Linked DNA regions of Homo sapiens. The protein of the gene in region 1 purifies or fractionates together with the protein of each later gene. This does not show direct contact. Each region holds a gene or a part of one and is shown in the gene's direction. Other genes may lie near its edges.

Evidence for each region.
Region 2: the proteins of ETFBKMT (region 1) and PISD purify together in Homo sapiens (affinity purification with mass spectrometry; one large-scale study listed by BioGRID and IntAct). This does not show direct contact.
Region 3: the proteins of ETFBKMT (region 1) and SARDH purify together in Homo sapiens (affinity purification with mass spectrometry; one large-scale study listed by BioGRID and IntAct). This does not show direct contact.
Region 4: the proteins of ETFBKMT (region 1) and SIRT5 purify together in Homo sapiens (affinity purification with mass spectrometry; one large-scale study listed by BioGRID and IntAct). This does not show direct contact.

Annotation. Positions count from the first base shown.
Region 1 is NC_000012.12:31,669,688-31,673,614, forward strand, and holds the end of ETFBKMT (electron transfer flavoprotein beta subunit lysine methyltransferase), read left to right. Parts: 3' UTR 1-2,616; coding exon of another isoform or gene 2,617-2,690; 3' UTR 2,691-3,427; downstream 3,428-3,927. Other genes in the region: protein AMN1 homolog, read right to left, coding at 2,617-2,690. UniProt on the Homo sapiens protein: Protein-lysine methyltransferase that selectively trimethylates the flavoprotein ETFB in mitochondria. Thereby, may negatively regulate the function of ETFB in electron transfer from Acyl-CoA dehydrogenases to the main respiratory chain.
Region 2 is NC_000022.11:31,652,216-31,655,715, reverse strand, and holds part of PISD (phosphatidylserine decarboxylase proenzyme, mitochondrial), read left to right. Parts: intron 1-3,500. UniProt on the Homo sapiens protein: Catalyzes the formation of phosphatidylethanolamine (PtdEtn) from phosphatidylserine (PtdSer). Plays a central role in phospholipid metabolism and in the interorganelle trafficking of phosphatidylserine.
Region 3 is NC_000009.12:133,707,353-133,710,852, reverse strand, and holds part of SARDH (sarcosine dehydrogenase, mitochondrial precursor), read left to right. Parts: intron 1-2,424; coding exon 2,425-2,566; intron 2,567-3,500. UniProt on the Homo sapiens protein: Catalyzes the last step of the oxidative degradation of choline to glycine. Converts sarcosine into glycine.
Region 4 is NC_000006.12:13,581,101-13,584,600, forward strand, and holds part of SIRT5 (NAD-dependent protein deacylase sirtuin-5, mitochondrial), read left to right. Parts: intron 1-2,975; 5' UTR 2,976-3,010; coding exon 3,011-3,125; intron 3,126-3,500. UniProt on the Homo sapiens protein: NAD-dependent lysine demalonylase, desuccinylase and deglutarylase that specifically removes malonyl, succinyl and glutaryl groups on target proteins.

The DNA of each region.
Region 1 (3,927 bases):
ACAAAGTTTAATTGAGCAAAGAACAATCTGTGAATTGGGCAGCTCCCAAAAGCAGAATAGGTTCAGAGTGACTGCAGGGTTGCCACACCTGGTTAGATAACGTTTATGGACAGATTCCTAGAGCTTTTGATTCTTTTTTTTTTTTTTTTGAGGCAGAGTTTCACTCTTATTGCCCAGGCTGGAGTGCAATGGCGTGATCTTGGCTCACTGCAACCTCCACCTCCTGGGTTAAAGTGATTCTCCTGCCTCAGCCTCCTGAGTAGCTGGGATTACAGGTATACACCACCAAACCCAGCTGGGATTACAGGCATGCACCACCATGCCCAGCTAATTTTTGTATTTTTAGTAAAGACAGGGCTTCGCCATGTTGGCCAGGCTGGTCTCGAACTCCTGACCTCAGGTGATCCACCTGCCTCAGCCTCCCCAAGTGCTGGGATTACACGTGTGAGCCACTGTGCCAGGCTGGAGCTTTTGATTCTTAAGTCCATCCACATGGAGCCTCCAGCAACTCAGGAATTACAGCATAAATGTTCCTATTGGTACTGGCTCCAGCAACAGGCTTCTGCTCCCTGTAAGCTATGGTTCTTTGTATTTGCGTTTCTAATTTGTGAGGCATTCTCTCTTTAACCTTAATTCTCTAATGGATCTAAGTGTTGTTGACTTTTCAGTTTATTGAGCTTTTTTCTTATTGTGAGGATGGGAATGATGACTTCCAATCTCTTTATATTAGAAAATATAAATCAGACTAGAGACTGGAAATTTTTGTTGTTGTTGTTGGGTGTTTTGTTTTGTTTGTTTTTAGACAGGTCTTGCTCTCTCATCCAGGCTGGAGTTCAGCAATGCGACCGTGCTCACTGCAGCCTCGACTTTCTAGGCTCAGGTAATCCTCCCACTTCAGCCTCCTTAGTAGCTAGGACTGTAGGCATGCACCACCATGATGCCTGGCTAGTTTTTTTATTTTGTATTTTTTGTAGACATGGAGTCTTGCTACATTGGCCAGGCTGGGTATTACTGGGTATTTCTTTCTTTCCTCCTTTATTTCTTTCCATATTTACTTATTCAATGAATATTTGAGTGCTTATTATATACCAGGCACTGTTCTAGGCACTGGGGATATGGGGATACAGCAATGAAAAAAAAAGATAAATACTTTGTCCTTATGAAATTTGTATTCTAGAGTAGGGAGACATAATGAACAAATGAAAACAGGCATCAGATGGTGATAGGTAGTAAGGAGAAAAAGAAGTAAGGGTAATAGGGAATACTGGGTACTGGATGGGGTACAGATATTTTAAACAGAGTGGTGAGAAATAGTTAATACAGCTAGCAACATAAAAAAGGAGAAATATCAAACTGCAAACTGTTTTAGGAAGATAAATCCTTCATAGACCCAAAGAAGCTCACAATTTAGATGTCGAAACTAGTTTCTGCAAAAAGGGGAAAATGTGATTGACTTGGTTAAATATTCAGTATTAAATTTTATTGAATTTGTCTTTAGAAAAATTTCATAGTTAGAACAGGCCTTACCCATTTTGCACATATATACATATGCACCACCTTTGCAGTGGCAACATATATATCCACACTATAAACATACCACATTTATAAATCTTGTAAGGACAAGAAATGGAGTTGAATAAGTACCCCCCAACATATACAAGAAAGTTAGCATACTTACCCCGTTTTTCACTACATCAGAGGCAAAATAAGAAATCTTTTAAGAAAATCTCAAGACTGGCTCATGGCAAAATGAATATGCTAAATTTGGGGGTTGGTTTAAGCGTGGTATGTGTCAGGTAATTTTGTGATTACCAAAAAGTTTTCACTTGAAAACTAAGACCTTTGCTGTTTATTTCACAATGTGAAATCAATAAACCTGAGGATACAAGTCTCTGTAGTGATATTCTGTATTTACTCATTTTTACACATTTTTGAATGCAATTTTGCTAAGGAAGGAAAGCTTACAGATGCATAAAATGTAACTGGGAAGAGTAGCCATAAAAATCAATGAATGGATGTGGCTGGGCAAGAGCCTCTGTAATACTAATACGCTGAATGGCTAATAAGTCACTTCATTTCGGTGAAACAAATACCTAAATTCTTTGAAGAATTAACAGGCTTGATGTTCAGGTCTGCTTTTGGCAAATGGGCATTTAAATACTCCAAGAAGGTAAGAGCCAGAAAATAGGAAGGTAACTATGCTTTTAGAAATATGTTTACTTAGATTCTCCCAAGGTTTATACTTACAGGTAAACTTAGAACAATAGCTCAAATACCTACATAGGAGAAGGAAATCTCAAGGGAAAACAGTTAATTTTAAAGTTATTTAAGAAACAGAATCCAACACCATAGATCAGAGTTCATGCTAGGATTATCATTTCAAAAATAATGACTCATCCAACAGATATAGAATAATAGCACTTTAAAGATGTTTAAGAGTAAAGCACAAACCATGTATATACCAAGACTTAGCTAATTCTCTGAGAGTTATAACTTAAGACAATAAAATAATTAAAAATAGTGTTAACATTAAGTAGAATGCAAATCTCTATAGATGGTTTCCTGGGAAAGTAGTTTTGATAAGCTTTCCTAGCATTGATCATCTTCAAAAAAGCATCAATAAACAGTCCATGTCACTTGCTTTAGTTTGTTTGGGCCTACTAATTGCTCCAACACTTCTCGGGAATGATCTATAAAAGAAAACAATGACAATATATTAATTGACAATAAAAAATGTTTAATGTTTCCTCATGTCTAACTGGAGGTGATGTTAATTATTATACAGTTATTTAAAGGATTAAAGGAGGTGATCTATAAAGCACAATATACAACTAACTCACTAATAATTAATTAATGGTAGCCCTCACTATTATTAGGTGTAGTGCACCTATCATGGTATTACTTGTTTAAAAAAAAAAAACAGGCATTTGTTGTTTTCTCTGTAATTTCATCATAATTCCACCAACCAGAGTAATGGTCTAATTTCACCATTAACCTGTGTTAATGGTTAATAACTTTTTTCAGGATCTTAGCCGGAAATAGATGATTCACTAAAGTGGGGTGACTGAACAGCATTTAATGAAGGGAATATTTACCAAAAAAGTAGGATTAAAGAAAGCCAATAGGTACGGTAAACCACCTTGGGAAGCTGCAACACACCCAAAGGGTTAAAGGAGGTAGTAGTCACCGAACGTGACAAGTTGACCTGTAGCTGAACATTTTTCCATGTCTGTATAATACTACTATAAAGCATGATTTTAAATAGATAACCATTATATAAATACACTGTAATTTAACCAATCTATATTATTGGACATTTAGATGTTTTCAGTTTTTCACAATGTACAGTCGTGATTTTGATATGGTTTCCATCCTAGTTTTAGGATGTCTTTTAAAAATCTGAATTAAAGCAAAAATACTGATAAAATTTTGTTAGTTTAAATATTACTCATAAGTTTAATAAACTTGTTTCCATAGATACAACCTATGTTTTATGTACAACATATCTCTAACCTAGTCTTGGAAATCCTGTAATTTGGTGGTTCCTAGACAGATTTCACAGACCAGTAGAAAAAAAAAAAAAGATGGGCCCAACATATACAGTGACAAAATTTTATTTTAAGTTTAACAAAATTAAGCAAAAATACCAAGGTTTATTGCCAGCAAGAGAACCAGAGAGTGTATAGAAATGAAAAGTTATTATCATTGGGAAAACAAAGGTTTACAATTTTTTAAAAAAGCAGCTAGTAAGATAAATGCAGTTTTATTCATGGTCATAAAAATATTATTGGTTATTGTAGAGGAAATCTCAATCAAAGATAGATTCAAATTATGTTGAAAGTAAAAGAATGGACAAAGACATACCATTTAAATGGCAACCATGACAAAGCTGGGTGGCTATAGAAGAAGGGGGAAACACTTTCCAAC
Region 2 (3,500 bases), on another chromosome or scaffold:
TTGCAGTGAGTTGAGATCACGCCACTGAACTCCAGCCTGGGTGACGGAGCGAGACTGCATCTCAAAAACAAAACAAAACAAAACAAAAACGAGTCCTGGCCTGGTGCAGTGGCTCATGCCTGTAATCCCAGAACTTTGGGAGGCTGAGGTGGGAGGATCACTTGAATCCAGGAGTTTGAGACCAGCCTAGGCCAGATGGCAAGACCTTATTTATCTCCACAAATATTTAAAAATTAGCTAAGTGTGCTGGTGCACACCTGTAGTCCTAGCTACTCAGGAGGCTGAGGTGAGAGGATGCCTTGAGCCCAGAAATTTGAGGCAGCGGTGAGCTATGATCATGCCACTGCACTTGAGCCTGGGCAGCAAAGCGAGACCCCATCTCTGGGAAAAAAAAAAAAAGGGGGTTGTACCTGAGTGGCTGGATGAACGGTGGTACCTTTTTTTGACCTGTTGTGTTAATTATAGTAATGTTGGTACTGTAACAGATAAACTCCAGCATTCTCAGTGGCTTAACACCGTAGAAGTTTCTCACTCTTGTAAAGCTGCATTGGGTGTTCCTGATTGGCAGGGCAGCTGTTCTCCAAGCAATGTTCAGGGACCCAGTCTCCTGCCGTCTTTTTTTTTTTTTTTTTTTTTTTTGGAGATAGAGTCTTGCTCTGTTACCCAGGCTGGAGTGCAATGGCGTGATCTCGGCTCACTGCAACCTCTGCCTCCCAGGTTCAAGCAATTCTCCTGCCTCAGCCTCCCCAGTAGCTGGGATTACAGGGGCACACCACCACGCCCATCTAATTTTTTGGATTTTAGTAGCTACTGGGTTTTACCGTGTTGCCCAGGCTGGTCTCAAACTCCTGAGCTCAGGCAATTCCTCCACCTTGGCCTCCCAAAGTATTAGGATTACAGGTGTGAGCCACCACGCCTGGCCTTCCTGCCATCTTTAATACTTCCCACAGTCGGCATGTTTGTCTGCATCAAGCTGGCTGGTGGGGGTAAGCTTGGAGGTGAATGCCTGGGAAGCCCGAATGATCCTCAGATTTCATTGGTTCACACTTAGTCTCATGGCCACACCTTGCTGCACAGGAGGCTGGGAAATTTAGTCTAACAGGTGTCCAGAAGAGGAAGTGCATTTGGTAAACATCTGGCTAGTCTCTCCTATGGATAGAGAACTCGGGCAGGAGCAGATTGAAGGTGAGTTAGAGAGGGTCGGGAATCCTGTCTTCTACAGACTCAGTTTGAGAGGACTCAAAATGGGGCCATTGGGTAGCTGGCCCCTGGAGGAGCAATGAAGGAGTCATCAGTGGATGGTTCTTTAAAGCCATGGGACTGGATAAGCATCTCTGGGGAGAGTTTATAGGTAGAGAAGAGATCTGAACCCTGGGCATGGCAAGAATCCACAGTTAGGAAGCAAAGGAGAATTCACAAATAGAGACTGAGAAGAAACCAGAGAAATAGGAAAAAAATCACGGTCCCAAAAGCCCAGTGAAGAGTGTTTCAAGGAGAGAAGGATCAACTGTGTCATGCTGCTGAGACGTCAAGTAAGATGAGACCTCAGATATGTGTGTGCATTGGTGTTGGCAACATGCAGGTTGTTGGTGACCTTGATGAGGTGGTGTGATAGGAACAAAACCTTACTGAGTGGGACTAAGAGAGGCTGAGAGGTGAGGAAGTGGTAACAGTGAGTGGAGAGCTCTTTTTAGGCTTGGAATGAAGGAGAGCAGAAAAGTAGGGAGGACCAAAGAATGATAGCATGGTAGACAGTGTTTGTGTAAGACTGAAGAAATGACAGCATTCATATGAAAATCGGGACGATCCCGTAATAAGATTCTCCTGCCTCAGCCTCCTGAGTAGCTGGTACTACAGCGTGTGTGCCACCACACCTGGCTAATTTTTGTATTTTTAGTGGAAATGGGGTTTCACCATGTTGGCCAGGCTGGTCTCGAACTCCTGACCTCAAGTGATCCACCCGCCTTGGCCTCCCAAAGTGCTGGAATTACAGTCATGAGCCACCATGCTCAGCTAGGTGTTTATAAGTCAAGGAAGTTTTATGTGAAAAAAGGGAAGTACCTAAATCTGATGTACCAAACTGATATAATGAAGCATTTCCCAGTATTTGTTCCAGCAGCTGGGACTACAGCGGTGGACAAAAAGCTGAGCTGTTTGTTCTTGGGCAGGGTTCCTGAGGGGGAAGATGGATATGCAAAACAAACCACCTGAGTGCCCTGTGTCCAGTTACGGTGGATACATAAATGATCATCTCCCATTCCTATTTCCTCCTGTCAGACAAAGCCTTGTTAATCATTGTGCAAACATTCTTTCAGTTAGGGGTTTTTCAGTATTCTGGAAAACACAATGCGGCAATGTACAGAACACAACAATTTATCCTTCAGTCCGTTTTTGCACTTCTCGTTAAAATTCTGTTTAGAAAGCAGGGTTTTAGGCTTTTTGCTGTGGCAGTGGGAGTATCCAGTCTAAGAAATGAACATTGTTCAGAACTGAAAGAACTTTCATATACTGAAATATACCCTTCATTGTGTTAATAGCTGTCTGGCCTTGGGGGTGGTGCTCGTCATGGTAAGATGCTTTTTCTCCTTGTTTGCCTATAGGAGAATCAGATTCATCATGTTAGCTACAATAGTGCTATGCTGCAAGGTGGGTGTGGTTTTTTTTTTTTTTTTTTTTTAAGGTAGGGTCCTACTCTGTCACCCAGCCTGGAGTACAGTAGCGTGTTTTCGGCTCACTGTAACCTCTGCCTCCTGGGTTCAGGCGATCCTCCCACTTCAACTTTTTGGTTAGGTAGGACTACAGGCACATGCCACCATGCCCGGCTAATTTTTGTATTTTTTGTACAGATGGGGTTTCACCATGTTGCCCAGGCTGGTCTTGAACTCCTGGGCTCAAGCAATCCTCCCACCTCAGCCTCCCACAGTGCCAGGATTATAGTTGTGAACCACAATGCCCAGCCTGGCAAGGGGGGTGTTTGTTTTGTTTTGTTTTGTGATTCTCCTGCCTCAGCCTCCCGAGTAGCTGGTACTACAGCATGTGTGCCACCGCGCCCGGCTAATTTTTGTATTTTTAGTAGAGACGGGGTTGCACCATGTTGGCCAGGCTGGTCTCGAACTCCTGACCTCAAGTGATCCACCCACCTCGGCCTCCCAAAGTGCTGGGATTCCAGGCGTGAGCCATCATGTGCTCAGCCAGGTGTTTGTAAGGCAAGGAAATTTTATGTGAAAAAAGGAAAGTACCTAAATCTGATAACATTTGTAGGATATCTATACAAGACATAACTTGGGCCAAGTGCTGTGGCTCACATCTGTAATCCCAGCACTTTGGCGGGCCGAGGCAGGTGGATCACTTGAGGTCAGGAGTTTGAGGCCAGCCTGGCCAACGTGGTGAAACTCTGTCTCTACTAAAAATACGAAATTAGTCAGGTGCAGTGGCATGCGCCTGTAATTCCAGGTACTCAGGAGGCTGAGGCATGACAATCGCTTGAACCCGGGAGGTGG
Region 3 (3,500 bases), on another chromosome or scaffold:
CAGCCCAGCCGTCACTGACGTGGGGCTTCCAAACCCCTTCAGTGTGCCAGAGTGGACGGCCGCCACCAGCAGGACCAGCCACCGGCCCCCAAGGGCTGTAGCACTAATGCAATGTTCTGCCACCTCGGGCCTGCGCCCGGGGACTGAGACAAGACACAGACCCTGAAGGAGAGAGACAGAGCGAGGAGAGGAAGGAGGTGCCTGAGAAAGTCGTTGAAAGACCCAGAAAAGAAAGTGAACAGAGAGCGTCGGCGCCAGAACGGAGCTCTCCCCTGCTCAGAGACTCCTGGTTGCTCCCCTCAGGCCAGAGCCAGAACACGCGTGGGTCGTCCTTCATCATACACATGGGAGACACGCACAGCGAGGGGGCGTCCCGGGAGACCAGGCAGCCTGAGCCGTCCCTGGGTGCGGGGCCTGTCTGGGCTCCGGGCTGCGCGTGAGGGTCCCAGGGCTGACCGGGCACCAGGGGGCTTCCAGGCCATGGCAGCCGCCCTGCGCGTGAGTTCCTTTTGAAATCAGATAAGAGGCTGTCTCTCCAGCCCCATATCTGTCAGCTGCATGGCCCTTGGTCAGTCGCTCCTGTTCTCTGAGCCTCAGTTTCGCCACCTGGAAAATGGGAACAATGTACCACCCTCTTGGAGCGCACTCGAGGCTCATGCGTGTGGACGCTTGGCCCAGTACCCAACAGAGGCAGAGCCAGAGTGTGGGCTGGGCTGTTTTTTCAGGGAAATTCCTTGGGGACCAGGTGAGCCAGGGAAGAGTTGCTCTTTATTTAAGTGAAAAGGGTGGTCTGGGCCGGCCTGGTCCCTCTGCCCACTTGCTCACAGGCCGAATTGGCAGCTGGGACTCTGTAGGTCACTCGCTGCTCCTGCCACCCGACGTGCACCTCACTGCTGCCCCCAAGAATCCTCCCAGACCTTCACTGGCTCCATCACCCCCTCCTTCAGCTCCTGGTCAGCATAGCCTGGCGCAGGTGTGGGCTGCCTTTGCCGTGGCCTTGCCGTGTGACTGTGAACACTTGTGAGACCCTTCCGAGCCTCAGTTTCCCCCTGCGTGAAAGAGTTAATCTTGGGTCCCATGCAGAAGGCAGCTCTGGGGACAAAGAGAGAGGGATTTCCTCCCACAGCAGCACTCAGCTCTGAGCCTGCACTGGAGCTGGGTGCCATAAGCGACAGCAGCTGTTAATGATAATATCATTAATAATAATCCTCACGTCTGCACCTCTACTCCCCACCCATCCAGATCAGAAAATTCTGCTTGCTAGAATTACGTGCAGACTAAGAATCAGCCCTGACAGGTGTCACTGAGGATAGAAACGCCTCTGATGTGGCTGCTGAGGCAGCCTTGAGTGATGAGTGAGGTTCTAGCAGGTGGAGCGTGAGGGGGAGGCGGGGTGCTGGGAAAGCCGGGGGCTGACAGGGAGGTTTGTGCGTGGGAGGCGGCTGCAGGGCCCTGATGCAGCTGGGCCCGGGTCTCACTCCAGCCAGCAGTTCCGCACTGTCGGATTCGGGACGGGTGGCTGGTCTGAGGAGACCAGGGAACAAGCCGCGGGGCACTGATTGCTCTGCCCACTCAGGGGCAGCAGAGGCCTAGGCCGCAGGTGCAGCCACAGAGCTCCGTAGCTCCATGAGAAATAGCATGGGGCCCGCCGGGTTCGTGCTGGACACCACCGGGGGCTGCCGTGGCCGCACACTGTGTCCCCAGCCTCGAAGGAACAAACCCAAAACTATTGCAGCCACATCATCTCCGGTCCCAGGCGCTGGATTGGGCAGCCGCTCCCCAGACACAGCTGGGATTTTCCCCCAGAGACTCTGTACCTCTTGGGTCCCTGGTCTGACCCACAGACGAGGCCCAGCTTTGGGATCACAGACTTGGGGAGGCCTGATGGGACAGGCGGCCACCCTTGCCCCCACTCCCCTGCTGGCGGGTGGAAAGGGGGGTTCCTTGATGAGGAGGGGGACACTGGTGTTCTGACGCATCACCAGGCTAAACTTCAAAGACCCTTCACATGGACCCTCCCCAGAGCATTCTGGGGATCTGAGCCCATCCCTCCCAGGGGCCGCTCCCTCCCCAGTCATGTAGGGGCACCCCAGGACTCCCCAGCACTGGAACCTAGGCAGCAGACAGCAATGTGTGGAGAGCGAGGCTGGAGTCCCATGTCCCTGTGGGGGATGAGAGCCTCAGCTGGGCCCTCTGTCCACAACGCCCACTCACTGAGGGCCACTGGGGTGGGGTGGCTCTGGGGGAGAAAGCTGAGTTCACCCAAGGGTGGGGCGAATGGAGAGTCAGGGGCCCGCTCAATGCTGAGCCACAAAGGGGACTCTGGTGCAGGGGACCGGGGTCCAGGCTTACCCTGGGTCCTAGGCTAGCCCTTCCCTGACGGGCCATCCCCAAAGCAGTGACCCGTCCCCCTGTCTGCGGCAGGCGCTTCCATCACTCGCTCACGGACCACCCCCGCTGGATCCGAGAGCGAAGCCATGAGTCCTACGCCAAGAACTACTCCGTCGTCTTCCCCCACGATGAGCCGCTGGCCGGGCGCAACATGAGGAGAGACCCGCTGCACGAGGTAACGCCCCTACAGCTCCTGCTGGGGACTGGCAGCGAGGGTCTGGGACGTCCTCAGGGCAGCGGAGTGACAGAAATGCAAGGTGTACCCCAACCGCAGGTCAGGTGCGGTGACAAGGTGTCTGTCATTCCCCAGGTAGTAACCCGGCACCCCCATGTGTTGGGCACAGTGCTCAGGGCCAAGAACATTAGGGAATAAAGTGGAAATGGCTCCCTCCCACCCGGGGGCTTCTGTTGTAGTGGAGGAGCAGGAACGCACACCCAGGAACCGCCCCCTGCCAACTGCTGGCAGCAGCGCCAACAGGGCAGGGGTCCTGGGGGCGGGGTCTTGGTGGGTGTATGCAGCCACGTATTGGGAGAGCAGCCAGAACACGGCGTACATTGGAGAGGGGCTCCTGCCTGTAGAGCCTGCTGCGGAGGCTCTTCTGCCCTGGTGAGCTTCGACTCACCCATTCAGTGAAACCCACTGTCAGGTGCCCCTTTCTCAGGTCTGCCCCTGTGCCCTCCCCTGGTCCCCCAAAGACAAAGGAGCTCCTTCTCTGCGCTCCCAGCCCCGTCTCCATTCCTTCCCCCTCTCCCTGGCCATCTCGTGCTGGACGCTTTGCTTTCTGGGGAACAGGGGCTATGTCCTAGGCACTCTGGTTCCTGAGCATTGAGGTGCTCGGGGGATGTTTGTTGAACAGATGGATGGGCGGGGAGGCAAGAGGGAGGCTCAGGGAGCAGGTGGCGTTTAAACTGAAGAAGGGGCCTCCCTCACCTGAGATTCCAGTGTCTGGCCCCAAGAGAGATCCTGGTATTAGCTGTACCTCCTGGGGAGAGGCCCAGAGTGGTCACAGGGCTGGCTCCCAGACTGCCCTGGCCCTTTGGCCTGGCTTGGTGGACCAGCTATGATCTCAGGCCACACATGGCCCTGGGGTCTCCCTAGCATGCCCCCG
Region 4 (3,500 bases), on another chromosome or scaffold:
AATGATCTAAACCAGGACAAGTACTACACCTAGACATTTACATATACAGTACTAGTAACTAATTTACAGGCTTCATTCAAATTTTGCCATTTGTCCTACTAATGTCCCTTTTCAGGTCTTGAATCCAGCCCAGGATCCCACGTAGCATTTACTTGTCATGTCTCATTAGGACCTGGGACAGTTTCTCCAGTTCTTATCTTTCAAAACTTTGATACTTTTCTGAAGAGTATTGGCCAGTTTTGCTGTAGAGTGTGTAGAACGCCCCTCAGCTTGAGTTTGGCATTTTCTCATAACTAAATTGCAGTCATGAATGCCACACAAGTGATGCTTTGCCCTTCTCATTGCATCATATGAGGAGGTAGGTGGAGTCGCCATGTCTTATTACTGGTGATGTTAACTTTGATCACTTGGTTAAGGTGGTAGCTGCCAGCTTTTCTACTATAGAGTTATTATTGGATAACACTTTTAAAGATTCATTCATGCTGTTGAAGGTATTAGTAGTTTGTTCTTATTGCTGAAGAGTCTTCATGGTATGGATAAACCACAATTTGTTTACCCATTTATAAATTGATGGACATTTGGTTTGCTTCTAGTCTTGAGCCTGGCACTATCTGATAGGCCTTGGTGTTCTATTGAACATAAACCACGTCACAGAGCACCGATATCAGACAGGGCCACTCTGTGACCACAATGGGTCAGGACAAGAACAAGGCCACTCAGTAATCACGTCTGAACTGGGACCGAAACAGGAACATTGTTGAAGCCACAAAGATGACCAAACATCCTCCCATGCCGCTAACATGAGGGACTCCTGCTTGGCCACTCACAGCTCTAGCCTCTCTTCATTCCTTCCACCTTTTAGATAAGATCCATTAACAGCATCAAATCCAGAACAAAGCCCCACTTCCATGAACCTCTCCCCAACATGATCTAACACAAGCACAAATCCTCTAATCAGTCCATTCCAGGTTCCTAACAGATGCTGCAGTTCTTCATGGCGTGTTCTATCTCTCGCAACTTGCTCGAGTACAAGTGTGTTCCTTGGACTGGAAGGCATTGATAATCCAAACAATATATAAACACATATGGAAAATCCTTGCTCAGCTCTAATCTCCTTACATAGCGTTTCCCACCCTATACTCAATTCTTTTTACTAATTTCTTGTGAATTCTTTTTTTGTTTTTATAGCAAATGCAAGAAAGTTAAGGTATATTCTTTTATCCCCTTGCCTTTCTCTTACAAAATACAATTGTGGTAAAACACATGTAACAAAATTTAGCATTCTAACCATTATTAAGGGTACAGTTCAGTCTATTCGCATTGTTGTGTAGCTAATCCCCTGAACTCATTTCATCTTGTAAAACTGAAGCTCTATACTCATTATTTTTAAGTAAAATATGTGTCTAATAAAATTAACCCTTTGTTAGTATTGAGTTTTATGAGTTTTGACAGATACAGTCATGTAACTACTACCACAATCGAGATATATAACAATACCATTGCCTCCCACCAAAAAAAAAAAAAAAAAAAATTCCCGCATGCCCCTTTTTAATCACTCCTCCCCTTTCTGGCAACCACCGTTATATTTTCTGCCCCCACAGTTTTGTTGGACAATCAGTGTCATTGTTCCAAATGTTGTCTTTCTCTGTGTTTGTTTTCTTTTTATAAAATTCCTCAGGTATAGACAAAGATTTACTGAATGTGCCTTAAGATCCACGAGTTTCTGTGACACGATGTTATCTTAATACTATTGTCACAGTACACTTCTTTCCTTCAGAATTTAGTTCTCAGTTAGAAATTACATTCTCACAGAAACTACTTTGGGCTGGGCATGGTGGCTCATGCTTGTAATCCCAGCACTTCGGGAGGCCTAGGTGGGTGGATGGCTTGAGCTCAGGAGATCAAGACCAGCCTGGCCAACATGGTGAAACCCTGTCTCTACCAAAAATACAAAAATTAGCCGGGCATGGTGGCGCGTGCCTGTAGTCCCAGCTACTGGGGAGGATGGGGTGGGAGGATCGCTGGAGCCCAGGAAGTCAAGGCTGTAGTGGGCCGTGATCACGCCACTGCACTCCAGCCTGGGTGACAGAGTGAGACCCTGTCTGAAATAAAAGAAAGAAACTGTACTTTGACCGCAAGTTGAGAGACTAGTGGTGGTTTTCATACCTTCTTTTTTTTCTTCTTTGTTCTTTTTTTTTTTTTTTTTTTTTTGAGATGGAGTTTTCCTCTTGTTGCCCACGCTGGAGTGCAATGGTACAATCTCGGCTCACTGCAACCTCTGCCTCCGGGGTTCAAGTAGTTCTCCTGCCTCAGTTTCCTGAGTAGCTGGGATTACAGGCATGCACCACCACTCCCAGCTAATTTTTTGTATTTAGTAGAGACAGGGTTTCACCATGTTGGTCAGGCTGGTCTCAAACTCCTGACCTCAGGTGATCCACCCATCTCGGCCTCCCAAAGTGGTGGGATTATAGGCGTGAGCCACTGCACCTGGCTTCATACCTTTTGAAAAGCAGCAAGTTTTCAAATGAATTCTCATATTTAACCCTTTCTTGTGCATTTTAGTGGTCCTCAAACTTGAGTAGTTACTAGAATCACCTGGAAATAGATGATGGGGTCCACCCCCAGAGTTTCTGATTCAGCAGCTCTGAGGTGGAACCAGAGGCTGCATTTCTAACAAGATTTCAGGTGATGGCGACGCTGCTGGTCTAGGGAACACGCTTTGAGAAGCACTGCTCCAAGGCACCTCTGCACCTCTAGGAGCACTTGAGAACACAAACGGAAAACAGCCAGTTCAGAGGATGATCTGTTACTAAAGATTTTTTAAAGGACATTCGTGTATGTGTGCGTGTGGGTATAATATAATATACATGATGCGTTTCTGTAATATATAAAATATAAATATTTATACATATTTCCATATATAAAAATATTTGCTGATTGTTTCTACACTATTTGTTTTTGTGATTTTTCTAAAGCCCGCCTCAAGCATTAGAACTACAGACAAACCCTGATGCGACCTCTCCAGATTGTCCCAAGTCGATTGATTTCCCAGCTATATTGTGGCCTGAAGCCTCCAGCGTCCACACGAAACCAGATTTGCCTGAAAATGGCTCGGCCAAGTTCAAGTAAGTCATTTTACCCATTGCCTCACCTGCAGCCAAATGTGAAGTACCTGAAAGTCCTACACTTCGAGAGGAATGTCTCTGTCAAATTAGGTATTGGGCAAGGTTTTGGAGAAAGCCACTCTGTCATCTTCTCTTTTTTTTTTTGAGACGGAGTCTTGCTCTGTCGCCAGGCTGGAGTGCGGTGGTGCGACCTCGGCTCACCGCAACCTCCGCCTCCTGGGTTCAAGCAGTTCTCTTGCCTCAGCCTCCCGAGGAGCTGGGACTGCAGGCACATGCCACCACAACCAGCTAATTTTTGTATTTTTAATAGAGATGGGGTTTCGCCATGTTGGCCAGGATGGTCTCGATCTCTTGATCTCGTAATTTGCCTGCCTC